2 separate regions of the Homo sapiens genome follow, and region 2 is linked to region 1. A link means that fine-mapping ties the variant in region 1 to the expression of a gene that starts in the linked region. Tissue or cell type: lymphoblastoid cells. Region 1 holds a variant in brackets; the other region holds the start of a gene. All regions are shown on one strand. Distances are from middle to middle.

Region 1 (2,762 bases):
CCACCATACCCAGTTGCATGTCAGCGTCTTTTGCTCTTAGAGAATGTTCAGGAAATGTTTCTTGAATGAATGATTGGCACTTGCTTTAATTGCTTTTTGGTGGCCTGACAGTAGACTTCCCAATGGATCTGGTTTGGTAATGGCCTAGAACTCTTAGAATTATTGCAGACTGTTTGAAGATGGGGATGAGGGGTTGGGACTAGGAGCGTAACTCCAACTTCCAAAACCTCATTAGATTTAAATAATAAATAAAGGTTTATTTTTCTACATCTACTTGGCTCTTATATGAGGGTAAATTTCTGATATCCCTTGCTGTAAAAATCTTTGTTCTAAATAATTATAAAACCTTTTCTGAATGTTTCCTTTTGTTTGTTTGTTTGTTTGTTTTATAACTTGATTGCCTTTTGGAAGCTTGGGAGCTTCATTATTGAACTTATTGGCAATAGAATGTTCCGACGTGGAAGAAGCTGTGACTTTCTCTGACTCAGTGAAATACCCCTTAAGTCCATTTCATCAGCCATGGGTCTCCTTTCTTCCTCCCTACTTGTGTTCAGTTTTAATAAACTGAGTGCATCTGGAGTTTTTTAAGTTGTTGACTATCTTCTTGGCTTTTGTGGTTCTAATTCCACTTCCTGTCAGCCCTGGGATTTTGTGTGCTTCATTAACCTCATCCCATCAGATATGATTTTGTATACGTGTGTATATTTGTATGAGTCTCTGCCTCCCACTGACTCCTAACTTCCCCTGGGGTTTAAGTCACAAGGAATAAGCTAGTTGTTTTTTTTTTTTTCCATTTATTTTAGAGTAAACAGGAATTGAAAGCTTCCCAGAAGATTTTGGCTCAAACAGAGCATTGGTGCTTTTAGGGGAAACCAACAGACCAGACATGGGGTTCGCTATATTCTTTTGGTGGTTGTTCCTGTCCTTCCATCTTATGGATCTCTGCCAGGGGCATTCCCTTACTATCTCAGTGTTTGTATCCTATGATTTCTTTCCCATCCTACCACCTGTAATGTTCAACTATGTTTCCAGGTATCTTCAATATCCCATCCTATTTATTTATACATTTAATTTTTCTTCAGTTCCTGCTGTGGGCAAGTCATAGGTTAGCCTTTCGGCAGTGTATTACCATCAAGTTTGTTCCTCTCAAACCAAATTTTATGTAGGATGAGATACAGATATAGATATATATATACCTCCATTGCACTATTAGTGTTTAAATGTAGACTTGAGAACCTATACAAACTACCCGAAACTTTGTCATTTAATGCTTTTTCCTAGATTTGCACATCTGGCAAGGACCTTAGAGAATAATTAGTTCAGATATAGAAATTGAAACCCTGAGAAATGAACTCTATGTTCCAGGTTCTAGAGTTAGTGAGT[G/A]AAATAACTCAGGTCAAAATGACTCAGCTTGTATCTATGGGGCTTCAGAAGATGGGTTTTGGCAATCAGATAATCTTGATCATAAGACTTTTGATTTATAGAATTTTTTATGCCTCCCTCAATAAGACAGATTTTTTACAATCTAATTTTTACTGCCTTCCAAGATCGTGAAAATATGGTACCATGTGAAATAATATGCTTAAACAGCAATCCTTTAAATATGCTTAGGAAATTGGCATTGTGAGATACAACTGGCTATGAGAATAGCTTTTGGATCAGTTGAAGAAAAACAGCCAAAAACAACAGGATGTTCGCTGCTCTTTAAAGATGTTGCTGCTGACAGTGGGTTTATCTCTGTGTATTAGCATGGCTGAAGTCATGGGTTGTGACCCAGGCCTGGGATCATGGGGACAAGTTGTGGAGCCACTTGTAGAACTGATCAGCCTGGACTTGTTCTGATCAGAGCCCAGTGACGTGTTTGCTCCGCACCAGCCATGCCCAGTACACCTCTGTGTTGACGATACCTGGTTTGGTTTTCTGTTGCTGCCATTCTTGACCATTTCACAGGGTAACCTGAGGTTCTTATAGGGAGGATGTCCATAAATAATTGTTGGAGGAATGAAAGCAGGCAGTGTACATTCTCCAACAATGTAAACTACTTGGCCACCCACAGAAAAATAATGAGAGTCATCAATCTCTTCACTTTTTGAGATAATCTCCTTTTTTGGTTTATCATATGCTCCTGTTTAGATGGGAAAGGAAGTTTACTACAGAAGAAACTTATGTAGGAAGTATCTACTGTTTATCAAGCAAACATTGGTTATTTCCTTTAATTTGGTTTCACTGGTTATTTCTTTTTAGTCTTCGACAATTTTGGTTGGTATTATCTGTGTTTTATAGACATGGAAAAAAGATTCAGAAAGGTTAAATAAGTTGTCCTAGGTCATGCAGCTAATAAATGGCAAAGCCAAATTTGGGAGCCAGTTCTCTCTGGCTCTTTCTCCACCCACATAAAGACATGTCCTTATGAGTCCGGCCACTTTTGGCATGCCCCATATCCTGGATTCTCCCTCTGCTCTCCCGTAACTAGATACTCAGGAAAAATGATATCATCCTTTCTAGCAGATCAGGCCTGAAAAGGACACTCCTTTTGCTCTAGTTAAGCATACCCAGTCCTAAATACTCCTTTCAAATCTACCTTTACATCTGGTAACCAGATAGCATATTGATTTCTTGGACTAGTTAACCAATTGGCTGTGGGCATTTTCTTTTCATTTTCTTGTGGGTCTGCTTTTTTCCAAAATTCTCCTTCTGGACCCCATATAAAGACTTCCTCTTTAGCTTTTTCAATTTGAATCCAAAGCCAAGGTAAAAAGAAT
Region 2 (2,762 bases), 63 kb before region 1:
GCATGGATGCACCTCTCCACTTTTCTGCACAAGTATGCCTTCCATTTCACAGAAGTGTTATCTGTTAGAAATCCCAACAGATAGCTGATGAGGACAGAGCCTGAGCACTTCTGAATTGCTCTGCCAATTTCTCAACCTAATTTCCCTAAAGCTTAAGGGCCTCTTAGAGTGTATACAACATCTATTTCCAAATTTTGTCCTGGCCCTGGCCCAGCCCAGCCAAGCCCAGCCCAGCATAGGTGTGCTGTTAAAACTTAATCAGGAGAAAGGGATTCTTATCCTGGCCCTACCACTTAGTAGCTGTGTGACCCTGGGTAAGTCATTTACACTTTTCAGTCTCGGTTTCCTCATCTGCAAAATGGAGATAGAAATATCAACCCGAAGGGCTATTGTAAGAATTATATGACAAAAAGTGAAGGCTCTTTGTACAGTGCTAGGCTCATAGTGGCTGCTCATTCGCTCATCCATTCCTTCGTTCCTTGAATTCACCAAGCCTTCTCCATCTTCCTAGCTCCCCCTTGTCATCGCCTCTCGAAACCTTTTCCCCCCAAAAGGTTGCCTTCCAGTTATCTTCCTTCCATCCCACCTCCATTTTTCCAGACTCTCCGGATCCTCTCAATCAGAAGCAACACAGACACCTACATCCCTCTTCTCCCCCATATTCTCCTTACCTGGCGACCGGGCCCCCAGCACAGCAGTGGCAGCAGCAGCCGCTGCCGCAAACAAGCTCCCCCAGGACAGCTCCAGCCCGGAGTCCACCTGAGCCATTTGTCCCCGCCCCCTCCCTCAGCCCTGCTCCAGGATTGGGCCGTTTCCGTCAGTACTCTCTCTGATTGGCTGTCCCGGTTTCGCCCGAGCAGGAGATGGGGAGTGAACCCCTTTACTGCCAATCAGCGGTTGCCGCTGCCTAAGCCTCTCCCCAGGTACGCCGCTCACGCCGTAAGCCCTCCTGTTGGACCTAGCGGAACTCCGGGTTTGGAGTCAACCTCTTAGGGGCGGAGAAAAAAACAGCGGAAAAAAAAAAAAAAAAGAAGACTCCCTTCAGCTGAGGGCAGGGCTCTGCGCCCGCGCTGCGCGGCGGTGACGACATTCGCCCGCGTCCGCAGCTGAGCGTTATGAGCGCCTGCGCAGTGGCTCCGAGCGGGCGGTTGCTTGTTGGTTGTTGTAGTAACCGGGGAAGCAGCCGTCGGCGGCTGCCCTGAGCCTTCCTGGGGAAGGAGGAGGGAGGTAGGCGCAGAGCGCGGTCCACGCCTGCTCGCCCCGAACCATGGGAAGATGAGACAGGTAAACGCCTGCGCCCGCGCGCTTCCCTACCCTAGGGAGGAGCATTCCCGGGTCCGGGCTGGCGCCTGCAGCAGGACTTCCCGCTCAGAGCCCGGGAGTAGCTGTTGGCTTCCGGGCGCGCCGCGTTGAATCGCGGCTGCGGGGTCGTCCCGTCCTTCCCGGGGGGAGCATCTGCGGACCTACGTGGGATTGGGGTGAGCTGGGGGTGGGGCTGAGAAGCAGATTCCTTTCGGGAGAGGAGTCTCCTTAGGTGAGTATCTCTACTCTTCTTCCGATAGACCTGTTTCTCCCCGCTCTGCAGGCAGCCTAGGAGAGGTTGGCATCCCTTCCCGTTTGGAGGTTTTGTTTGTTTAAACTTAAAGGGCTTCCCAGCATTTTGGGAAAGATCAAGAAATCCCGTTGAGAATCCCCTGAAGAAAGCCATTGAAGTTGTTAGACATTGCCTATTGCGCCGAAGATCTTTGATCATTATCGGGGTCTGTTTTTTTTTTGTCTTATTTACAGTCTCATCGTATTTATGAATGCATGGAAAAGTTAAGAAGGATTGACAGCAAGTAATTATCGCTGAGTAATTTGGGATTATGGTCATTTAAACATGTTTCTTTTATTTGTAGTTCCTATTTCTTCTTCTGACACACACAACGAACATGTACTTTTTTACTTTAGAAAAAATATTTTAAGTTAGAAATGCAGTGTTGGAAATTTCCTAATTTCATCGTCTATTTGAGAGTCGTACCAAACTTTGTGATTTTTAGGAAGAATAATTTTTAAGAGTGGAAGGGCATTCCTCCCCTCCCCCACCTATTTATATGGACCTTTGATTCAAGAGAATATATTCATCTTTCGGTTCATTGTTGAATTTATTTTACTGGAAACATGATGGCATCTTGTCAGCGTGCTTGTCATAGAGTCTAAATAAATGTTGGCAGGGGTTTTTTGTTGTTTTTTTTTTTTTGAGACGGAGTTCACTCTTGTTGCCCAGGCTGGAGTGCAATGGCGCGATCTTGGCTCACCGCAACCTCCGCCTCCCGGGTTCAAGCGATTCTCCTCCCTCAGCCTCCCGAGTAGCTGGGATTACAGGCATGAGCCAGCACACCCGGCTAATTTTTTGTATTTTTTTTTTTTTTTTTTAGTAAAGACGGGGTTTCTCCATGTTAGTCAGGCTGGTCTCGAACTCCCGACCTCAGGTGATCCGCCCGCCTTGGCCTCCCAAAGTACTGGGATTACAGGCGTGAGCCACCCTGCCCGGCCTGCAAGGGTCTTAAACCTTGAGTTTTTATTTATTTATTTTTAACCCAGGCCAGGTTTGTCTAGCAAGGAATATATGTTTTAGGGAATCAGTCACCTGCCTCAAACTGAGTGAAAGTGAGGAGTCTATCCTTTTGGTGCATATTCGATTTAGTAAATAATGAGAAACTCAAACTTAGTAACAGCTCTTCAAATATATAGAGCACAGACTGTATGTTTGAAAAAAATCT

What was found. PIP is the estimated chance that this variant, and not a neighbour inherited with it, causes the effect.
Region 2: TTLL5 starts here. The variant in region 1 is the best candidate, but not a certain one, in a credible set for the expression of TTLL5 in lymphoblastoid cells (GTEx, PIP 0.64).

The regions. Positions count from the first base shown.
Region 1 is chr14:75,723,240-75,726,001 of GRCh38, forward strand. All of the region lies in intron 12 of TTLL5 (tubulin tyrosine ligase like 5), which reads left to right. Among named protein-coding and RNA genes, the nearest start is that of TTLL5, 63 kb to the left of the region's middle. The variant G/A (reference allele first, on the strand shown) is at 1,384.
Region 2 is chr14:75,660,104-75,662,865 of GRCh38, forward strand. It overlaps TTLL5 (tubulin tyrosine ligase like 5), which reads left to right and starts at 1,143. Exons shown (of 32, transcript NM_015072.5): 1 at 1,143-1,284. It overlaps ERG28 (ergosterol biosynthesis 28 homolog), which reads right to left and starts at 773. Exons shown (of 5, transcript NM_007176.4): 1 at 672-773. RefSeq lists a silencer at 835-884 and an enhancer at 995-1,214.